2 separate regions of the Homo sapiens genome follow, and region 1 is linked to region 2. The links come from fine-mapping of genetic effects on plasma protein levels. A gene starts in region 2. The other region holds a variant in brackets. All regions are shown on one strand. Distances are between the middles of the regions. Region 1 has its middle 36 kb from the start of CD38. Region 2 holds the start of BST1 (bone marrow stromal cell antigen 1).

Region 1 (5,373 bases), 40 kb after region 2:
TGTAGCTATTAAAGGGTAGCTGTCAGAATTACCCAAACTCTTCACTGAAATGACTTACTTATTTGAGAAAAATGCATGTTAAGAAGCCAAACCGTGTGTGTGTGTGTGTGTGTGTGTGTGTGTGTGTGTGTGTATTTCTCCCCTGCACAAAAGTAGAAGGGTTTTCATTTGACTTGTGCCAGCTGCACCTTCATGACTTTGCTATAGGACATGTGACACAGTAACTCTAAGATGGTGCTTGTAAAATTTTAAAATAGTTAACATACAGTGACAAGCTCTCAGGGGAACACATTAAACTCGATTAAATTTTGTAGGGTAAAAAGATGTGTACAGAAATATAATCAGAGTGAAGTCATTGTTCACCATTGCTGCTAGTAATAAAATTTGGTGGTAGGAGGGGGAAGGAGAAAGGGAGGGAGGGAAGTCGGTGAGAGAGAGAAAAGGAGAGGGAGACATTGACAGAGAGAGAGACAGACAGACAGAGAAACAGAGAGAGACAGAGAAAGAGAGGGAAGAAGGGAGAGAGAGAGAGATAAGGATAGAGAGAGACAGGGAGAGAGTGTATCTCCTGATCCTCACTGGCTGATAACTAAATTAGTTGGGGGCAGGGGGGACTGAATCTCGTTCTGTCACCGAGGCTGGAGTGCAGTGGCACCGTCTCGTCTCACTGCAACGTCTGCCTCCCAGGTTCAAGTGATTCTCATGCCTCGGCCTCCCTAGCAGCTGGGACTACAGGCACACGCCACTATGCCTGGCTAATTTTTTGTATTCTTTTTGCTAGAGACGGGGTTTTGCCATGTTGACCAGGCTGGTCTCAAACTTCTAACCACAGTGATCTGCCCGCCTTGGGTTCCCAAAGTGCTAGGATTATAGGCATGAGCCACCATGTCGGGCCTAAATTAGTAGTTATTATCTACTTTCATTTGTGGGATGAAGATGAAACAGAGTCCTTTGGGATTGTGCACTGGGGGAAACCTAACATAGTCTAGTATCGGGAGAGGAGGCTTTCCAGAGAAAGTCTTCCTTAAGTTGAACCTGAAAAAACGAGAGCTATTAGCCAGATGAGAGGTGAAGGTGTGAGGGGGTGGATTGGAAATATTTTCAGGTAGGGAGACTAATCTATACAAAGGTTTATGTTCTCAACTACTGAGTTTGTCTTCAGCATTTGCACCTTATTTAACAAATTTATTAATTTGTTAAATTATAACAAATATTTGACAGCAGAGCTGAGGATATTAAAATAAAATGTAATTTTATTTCTTATATGTTGGTGAAGAAGGAGCAGCAACAGAGGCTGGAGCATTATTTACAAGCCAAACTATCCGTCTGGAGATTCCCAGTGCAGCAACTGGGACGGGGACTACTGAATCCCTCAGATTTTAGGCCATAGGCCAATGAACATTTTCTGTAAAAGGTGAAGTAATACTTTTAGCTTTGCTGGCCATGCAACCTCTGTCGCAACTACTCAACTCCGTGGTTCGTGAGGGGTCCACAGGGTTCATTATCCGTCATGAACCGCAGAGTTGAGTAGTTGTGACAGAGGTTGCATATATTTACTCAGCCAATATTTACTGATGATATTGATTAGGAGTCTTGGGAAGAGCAGTGACAGTTTTTTTGGTATTATATCTAGCGACAAAAGATTGAATTTGGCCGTTACTCACTCCTCCTCCAACAAAGTTGTCAAACGGGGCTGCTACAGACAAGTAGAATCACAGATTGGAGATCAGCTGTCATTATGTAACAGCTGGATTGGCAGGCTTCCCTCTAGGGGCCATCCCTGTCTACAGCTAGAGTGGACAGGCCAGGGAGGACACCATACTTGGAGTAGAGTAACCTTGTCCAGGAGTAAAACATGGCCCGAGAATTCTGTGCTCCTAGCAATCCTATTATTATAGAAGTGCTTCCTGATAAGGGAGGAAGGGTAGGAAGAGGAAAGCTGAGGCAGATGGATGGGGAAAGTACTGAAACATTCTGTTCACATCCTCAATAACCTTCATGAAAAATCAGTCATAGATGCTGGAATCTCCAAACCTCCAAGGGGCTTACAACATTGTGTGCAGGGAAACCTCTAATTCACAGCCTTATTGAGAGCATGTGTCAATGGCCCATAGCAGGGGCCCATTCTGGCTTTTGTACAACCCCAAAGACACACGTGGGTTTTCCATTTTTAAATGGTTGAAAAAAATCAAAAGAAGAACATTATTTCATGGCGTCTGAAAACTACATGAAGCTCAAATTTTAGTGTATAAAGTTTTACTGGAACTCAGCCATGCTCATTAGTTTGTGCTTAT[C/G]TATTCCGCTTCTGAGCTATTGCAGAGTTGAGCAGTGGCAACAGAGGTTGCATGGCCCGCAAAGCGAAAAGTATTATCTCACCTTTTACAGTAAATGTTCATTGGCTTATGGCCTAAAGTCTGAGGGATTCAGTAGTCCCTGTCCCAGTTGCTGCTCTGGGAATCTCCAGATGCATAATATGGTTGGTGCATAACGCCCCGGTCTCTGTTGCTGCTGCCTCCTTCACCAACATACAGTACAAACAAATAAAACTCCATTTTATTTTAACATGCTCAGCTCTGCTGCCAAAGCTGTGACAAGCCCAGAAGCAGTTTTTCAGGGTTTGAGATGGAGAAGAAGGTGGTCTCTTCTCTTGCTCATCAAGGAATCCTCTTTATTATTTAAGCCAGATTAAGTTTGCTATGGTTTGAATGTTTGTCCCTCCAAACTTCATGCTGAGATTTGATCCTCAATGTGGCAATGTTCAGAGGTGGGGTCTACTGGGAGGTGTTTGGGTCATGGGGGTCAACCCCTCATGAATTAATTACTGTGCTCCCTTGGGGATGGGTGTGTGAGTTCTCACTGTCTTAGTTCCCTTGAGAGCTGGCTGTTAAAAAGAGCCTGGCACCTGTCTCCCTCCCTCCTTGGCTTCCCCTACTGCCATGTGATCTCTTTGCATACTTTGGCTCCCCTTCCACTTCCACCATGAGTCGAAGCAGCCTGAGGCCCTCACCAGATACAGATGCCTAATCTTGAACTTTCCAGCCACCAGAATTTTAAGCCAAATAAACCTCTTTTCTTTATAAACTGCTCAGGCTCAGGTATTCTGTTACAGCAACACTAAATAGACAAAGACAAAGTTGTTGACTGACTTTGAATTTCTTTAGAAGCAGACCTGTGACAGAGGATAAGTCCAGGGAGTTCATTTGGGAGGTAATAAACTACCTGAAGGTACAGGAAACACTGATGAAGAAGTGGGAATTGAGTTAGGGATGGCAGGAAGCCAATACAGTGTTATCAGGCTGTTATCACTGAAGGAAACTGGGGTTGAAGCCTGCTGGGGAACTAAGGCATACAGTGCAGAATGCACCTCGAACTGATTGTATCTGAGACAGAAGGAGGTTGAGATATTTATCTACTTGTCAGTCATGGGTTCAGGACTGCTCCCAGGAGGACATTGGGCCTGCCCTGAGATGGCAACTGGCACCAGCTGCAGCAGAGATGGGATGGAAAGAAAACAAATTAATATGAAGTTTCAGATGAGCCACTTATTTACAAGGAGGACAGTTTTGAAATTAATTTTTCCTTATACTTTAAGGTACAGTGAAAGGATGCATAAACAGACCTTTTTGAAGTATGTGAAAATCATGAACCCACTTTCAGTTTGTTGCACCAACTTCCACAAATTACAATGTCAGAGGAAACATCAAAATTCCCTTGCATAATTTTACATTTAAAATAAAATTCAGACACCAAGATGGTAACCCCCATGGATCTTCACAGAGCTTCAAGACAAAGTTTTTGACACTCAACAGAAGGTGAAGCTTACAGACATACCGACCAAACAGCTAAACAGAACAAAAAAGCATGCACATCTTACAGATGCAGAGATCATGACTTCGGTGGATGAGACTAATCTGTATGAAGCTGTAGGATATATGTATGAAGATGAAGAATGTTTATTCTTCAATCCAAGGAGGCAGTTCACAATAAACTGTTAGAAAGTCAGAAAATAGCAGAAGAAAAAAAAATTAAAGAACTAAAACAGAAAAAAATCCTACCTAGAGCAGAATGTTAAGGAAGCTGAGGGCAACATCTGGGAGATGCTGATGGCACAAAGGGCCCAGCTGGGAGCCTCTGCGGGAAGCTCTTCCTCCTGCCCCTCCTATTTCTGGCAAGGGCAGAGTGGTCTGTGCAGGGAAACAGTCTGTCTTCTGCCCTAATGGATGTTTTATCTGGATGGCCTAGCAATCTCACATGTTGAGCCCCTCTTGTATCCCAACTCTGAGATTTTTACCCTGGCTTTGCCTCCCCTGCTCAGGACACTCTTTTCTGTTGGTGTGAGTCATGAGCTCCCAGGAAAGGGAAGATGGGAGCCAGGACTGATAGGAGGCTCTGTCTGAGCCTTCCATTAGGGACGCTGGTCAGACCAGTAAACAGCATCTGTCCCACTCTGCTACATCTGCCTTTCTTGAGCCAAGGGATGGGAATGGAGGGTGAGAGAGGCAGTGGCTATCTCCATCACAGCTCCTGCTCCCTCTGCATTAGAGTCTTTCTTTCCTTGGGGGATGGGATCTTGTCCTCTTATCTTTTCCTTTTCTGGACATTTGACTAATCCCTTCACCTTCTGGGCCTCTGTGTAGTATACAGATGAGGAAGAAAGAAGACTTACACCGAAAGCTGAATTTAAGTGAAAAGAATAGTGGTTCCTTTATGGCAGTCTGCCTACAGATTCCTTTCCCTGCTTTCTCCCATACCTTCTGTATTAGTCCATTGGCACACTGCTATAAAGAGCAGCTCGAGACTGGGTAATTTTTAAAGGAAAGAGGTTTAATTGACTCAGGGTCCCACGTGGTTGGGGAGGCCTCAGGAAACTTACAAATCACGGTGGAAGGCAAAGGGGAAGCAAGGCACCTTCTTCACAAGGTGGCAGGAAAGGGAATGACACAGGAGGAACTACCAAACACTTATAAAACCATCAGATCTTGTGAGAACTCACTCACCATCAGGAGAACAGCATGGGGGAAACCGCCCCCATAATCCAATCACCTCCACCTGGTGTCTCTTCCTTGACACATGGGATTATGGGGATTACAATTTAAGATGAGATTTTGGGTGGAGACACAGACAAACCATATCACATTCCAAAAGAAAGTTCAACAATAAGCAGCACTTCCAAGACTTTCTCCCTTTGGCCAATATCATAAGATGGACACTGTAATCGTGAGGCTTAGGGGCAGAGGAGTGCTGGAGCTGGCCTATACCCACTCAGGAGGGCTGATTGTTCAATTTTCATGAATTTTGTTGCAAGCCACTTGTTAAAAACAGCCATTACAAAAATTATCTAAATTTGAAAATCGTGTTAGAAACAAGGATAAT
Region 2 (5,373 bases):
CACATTTCAAAACCAATCATGCCTTCTCAACAGACCCTCAAAGTCTTAACTTCAACATTAGCCCAAAAGTCCACAGTTCAAAGTTTCATCTGAGACAAGGCAAATGCCTTCTGCCTATGAGCCTGTAATATCAAAAGCAAGCTAGTTACTTTCTAGATAATGATTACCTCCAGGGTAAACAAGAGGTTTACAACAAATAAAATGTCATAATGTCCCAAACAGAATAATGTCCCAAACAGAAACATCAAGAAATAGCATATAGGTATTGTATTAGTCTGTTCTTGCATTGCTATAGATACCTGAAACTGCTCATTTATAAGAAAAAGAGGTTGAATTGGCTCACAGTTCTGCAGGCTGTAGGAAGCATAGTGGCTTCTGCATCTGGAGAGGCTTCAGGAAGTTTCCAAATGTGGTGGAAGGCAAAGGGGGAGCAATGGGTCTTACACGGTGGCAGCAGGGAGCAAGAGAGAGGGAGGAGGTGCTACACACTTCTTTTTTTTTTTTTTTTGAGACAGAGTCTCACTCTGTCACCAGGCTGGAGTGCAGTGGTGAGATCTCAGCTCACTGCAACCTCCGCCTCCCAGGTTCAAGCGATTCTTCTGCCTCAGCCTCCCGAAGAGCTGGGACTACAGGTGCGTGCCACCACGCCCAGCTAATTTTTGTATTTTTAGTATAGATGGGGTTTCACCATGTTGGCCAGGATGGTCTCGATCCGTGATTCCCAACACACCCCCCACACCAGCCTCCCAAACTGCTGTGATTACAGGTGTGAGCCACGGCGCCCTGCCAGTGCTACACAGTTTAAAACAACCAGATCTCACTTACTATCATGAGAATAGCAACAAGGGGATGGTGCTAGACTATTCTTGAGAAACCCACACCCATGATAAAATCACCTCCCACCAGGCCCCACCTCCAACGTTGGGGATTACAATTTCACATTAGATTTGGTGGGACGAGCCATGCCAGGGATGCCCCAAAATTACTAAACTAAAGGGAAAAGTCAGGCTGGGAACTGCTCAGGGCAAACTTGCCTCCCATTCTATTCAAAGTCATTCAGCTGCTCACTGAGATATATGCATATTCTGATGGCCTTCTTTGGAAAGGCTTATCAGAAACTCAAAAGAAGGCAACCATTTGTCTCTCACCTACCTGAGACCTGGAAGCCCCCTCCGTGCTTCGAGTTGTCCCCGCCTCTCTGGACAGAACCAATGTACTTCTTACATATATTGATTGATATCTCATGTCTCCCTAAAATGTATAAAACCAAGCTGTGCCCTGACCACCTTGGGTACATGTCGTCAGGACTTCCTGAGGTTGTGTCATGGACACGTGTCCTCAACCTTGCTAAAATAAACTTTCTAAATTAATTGAGACCTGTCTCAAAATTTGCGGGTTCACACATGTTATTTAGAAATATGGAAGTAAACACAGGAACAAAACTTGAAAGAATTAAAAATGCTTTCCTCTGGAAAGTGGATTTAACTTAAGGAGGAACTGAACAGGAGAATGCGGGTTTTGGTTACAGAAAAAAAGAGATTCAAATAAAACAGTAGAGAACACCTGTTCTGTCCTCCCTTGTGTTTATCAAGTGCTTGCCAGGCACTCAAAGTTCATTGCTGTCATTATTGTAAGAATTGAGGACTTGGGCCTCCACGTGGTATTCTATTAATACTGGCTCTTTTTTTTTTTTTTTTTGAGACGGAGTCTCACTCTGTTGCCCAGACTGGAGTGCAGTGGCCCGATCTCGGCTCACTGCGAGCTCTGCCTCCTGGGTTCACGCCGTTTTCCCGCCTCAGCCTCCCGAGTAGCTGGGACAACAGGCGCCCGCCACCGCGCCTGGCTAATCTTTTGTATTTTTAGTAGAGACGGGGTTTCACCGTGTTAGCAAGGATGGTCTCGATCTCTTGACCTCGTGATCCACCCGCCTCGGCCTCCCAAAGTGCTGGGATTACAGGTGTGAGCCACCGCGCCCGGCCAATCCTGGCTCTCTTAAACTGAACATCTCCAGGATTTTGCATCTATCAGGAAGGGATATTGTGACCTCTGACAAGTTACAGTCGGCGGTAGGTATCCATGGAGAATTGGTTCCAGGAACCTCCTGGATACCAAAATCCACAGATGCTCAAGGCCCTTATATTAAATGGTGTAGTATACAGTATTTGCACATCCTCTTCTATAATTCACGTCATCTCCAGATTCCTTGTAATATCAAGTACTATGTAATTGTTACATAAGTAGTTGTTACATTGGATTATTTAGGGAATGATGACAAGGAAAAAAAAGTCCGTACATGTTCCGTACAGATGCAAGCATTCTTTTTTTCCTCAAATGTTTCTCATCCGTGGTTAGCTGAATTTGGATGATGAATCCGCAAATCTGGAGGGCCGAACATGCTTAACTTCCCTGAGTTTATCCATTGCTAAAGCGAGAGAAATTACAAACTTAGCTAGGAAGGGTGTTGCGGAAAGTAATTAATATTATACTTGCAAAGTGCTTGGCACGTTGTTGTGGTTATTATTTCCTGAAAACAAACAAACACCACTTATTGGTTGGTGTGAAAGAGGGCATCTGTCAAAGTTGTCGTCCTTTGGAGCCAGAAAAGTATTTCTTCTGATGATGACTGACCTCTCCTCACCTCTCCTTCAACCTTGCGGCTTCTTTGGGGCTCCCTCCCCGTGGACAGCGGTCAAGATTAGCCTGGGCCACAGTGCACTGGTCCTGTCCTGGGTGATGTTCCAAGCTCACTCTTTTTTAATTTTATTTATTTATTAATTTTTTTTTTAGACAGAGTCTCACTCTGTCGCCCAGGGCTGGAGTGCAGTGGTGCAATCACTGCTCGCTGCAGCCTCGATCCCCTGGGGTCAAGCCTCCTCACATCTCACCTCGCAGGTAGCTGAGACTACAGATGCGCACCACCAGGACCAGCTAAGTTTTGTATTTTTTTGTAGAGAGGAGGTTTCTCACCTGTATGTTACTCAGGTTTGTCTCGAACTCCTATACTCAAGCGATCCGCCCGTCTAGGCCTCTCAAAGTGCTGGGATTACAGGCATGAGCCGCCGCGCCCCGCCCCACGCTCAGTCTTGAAATTGTCTGGAACGGGAAACGGCAAACAGCGAGATATCCGAGCGAGAGTCCCGCCCTGCATCAGTTTGCGGAACCGCCTTGGTAGAAGGAGAGAAGGGGAGTGGAGGAAGCACGGGACTGGAGGGACCAAAGTTCCCCGATGGCGGCCCAGGGGTGCGCGGCATCGCGGCTGCTCCAGCTGCTGCTGCAGCTTCTGCTTCTACTGTTGCTGCTGGCGGCGGGCGGGGCGCGCGCGCGGTGGCGCGGGGAGGGCACCAGCGCACACTTGCGGGACATCTTCCTGGGCCGCTGCGCCGAGTACCGCGCACTGCTGAGTCCCGAGCAGCGGTGAGGCAGTCGGCCGGGTGGAAGGGGAGCCGGAAAGAGGCAACGGTGGGGAGGGCCTGGGGAGGGGAAAACTGGCGCTAAAGTTCGGGGTGAGGGGGCAATGAGAGAGGCCTTGAGGGGAGAGGTGAGTGTGGAGACAGCGATGGTCCTGAACGATGGGGGCGAGTGAGGAGGGGGCTGTGAAGTGTGTCTGCAGGTGAGGGGTGCGCTGTGCGGGGTCTAGAGATGAGTGTGTGTGTGTGCGCGCACACACACACTGTAGAGGTGAGGGGTGTGTGCGTGTGTTCTAGAGGTGAGGGGGGTGTGTGTGTGCGCGCGCTCTAGAGGTGGGAGGTGTGTGTGTGCTCTAGAGGTGGATGTGTGTGTGTGTGCTCTAGAGGTGGGGGTGTGTGTGTGTGTGTGTGCTCTAGAGGTGAGGGGTGTGTGTGTGTGTTCTAAAGGTGAGATGTGTGTGTGTGTTCTAGAGGTAAGGGGTGTGTGTGTTCCAGAGGTGAGGTGTCTGTATGTGTGTTCTAGAGGTGAGGGGTGTGTGCATGTGTGTTCTAGAGGTGAAGGGGGTGTGTGTGCGTGCGCTCTAGAGGTGAGGGGTGTGTGTATTCTAGAGGTGAGGGGTGTGTGTGTTCTAGAAGTGAGGGGTGTGTGTGTTCTGGAGGTGAGATGTGTGTGTGTGTGTTCTAGAGGTGAGGGGTGCGTGCATGTGTTCTAGAGGTGTGTGTGTATCTGTGTTCTAGAGGTGAGGGGTGTGTGTGTGTAGTCTAGAGGTGACAGGTGTGTGTGTGTGGTCTATAGGTGAGGGATGTGTGTGTGGTCTAGAGGTGAGGGATGTGTGTGTGGTCTAGAGGTGAGGGGTGTGTGTGTTCTAGAGGTGAGGGGGTGTATGTGTATTCTAGAGCTGAGGAGAGTGTGTGTTCTAGAGATGAGGTGTGTATGTGTGTTCTAGAGGTGAGGGGTGTGTGTGTGTTCTGGAGTTGAGGGGTGTGTGTTCTAGAGGTGAGATGTGTGTGTTCTAGAGATGATGGGTGTGTGTGTTCTAGAAGTGAGAGGTGTGTGTGTTCTAGAGGTAAGGGATGTGTGTGTGTGTGTGTTCTAGAGGTGAGTTGTGTGTGTGTTCTAGAGGTGAGATGTGTGTGTGTTTGTTCTAGAGGTGAGGGGTGTGTGTGTGTAGTCTAGAGGTGACAGGTGTGTGTGTGTGGTCTATAGGTGAGGGATGTGTGTGTGGTCTAGAGGTGAGGGATGTGTGTGTGGTCTAGAGGTGAGAGGTGTGTGTGAGTGTGAAGGAGGGTGGAGAGGTATCCCTCTAGAAGTGAGGGTGGGGTAGAGGTGAACTGGGTAACAGCCCATTGCCACCCAGCAGATGTTTAGTCTGAATACTCAGAACCCAGAATGTGATCTCAGGTTGGAATTCCTTGAGTCCAGTCCTTCCAGAATTCAAATTTCAGATCCCCTAAATCTGGAGGATTTCTGAAGTTTGGGTCTTTCTTGCCAGTGCTGCATTTCTTACTGATTTTTGTTCCTTCTGTGGCCCCCCTTTTCTTATGTTTGTGATGTCTTTCTTGTGCTGATCATTTTTATTGTCGCACATTTCAGGCAAATAAGAAACAGCAGAGAACCACCTGTGTTACACACCACCCAGTATGAGAAACAAAGTTACAAATGCTATGGGAAATATTTTTTGAAAACTAGCATGGACCTCAAGAGGGGCTTGCACTGGAGGGTGCACCTGCTTTGCCAGAGGTGGAAGCCTTTTGCAGCATTGGGCCTCCCTCCTAACACTACACATCCTGCTGGCTGGCCTGGCCTCACCTGGTCCCCGAGCTCCACACTGGAACTGGACTATGAGACTGGCCCCACCGTTAGGTCTAAATGAAGAGGCACCTGCTGTATAGTTGACTGAATTTGTCACCTCCTGCTCGGTGCCATTTCTGCTTGTCTCCGTGAGCCTGGGGCAAGGCTGTATTC

The links. PIP is the chance, under the fine-mapping model, that this variant and not a neighbour inherited with it causes the effect. Protein levels are from the aptamer-based SomaScan assay of Sun 2018.
Region 1: its variant is fine-mapped to the plasma level of the BST1 protein (Sun 2018, PIP 0.95).

The regions. Positions count from the first base shown.
Region 1 is chr4:15,739,462-15,744,834 of GRCh38, forward strand. It overlaps a transcript of BST1 not described here and the pseudogene PFDN1P2. Among named protein-coding and RNA genes, the nearest start is that of CD38, 36 kb to the right of the region's middle. The variant C/G (reference allele first, on the strand shown) is at 2,295.
Region 2 is chr4:15,699,919-15,705,291 of GRCh38, forward strand. It overlaps BST1 (bone marrow stromal cell antigen 1), which reads left to right and starts at 3,147. Exons shown (of 9, transcript NM_004334.3): 1 at 3,147-3,414. The coding sequence starts at 3,227. RefSeq lists a silencer at 3,086-3,165.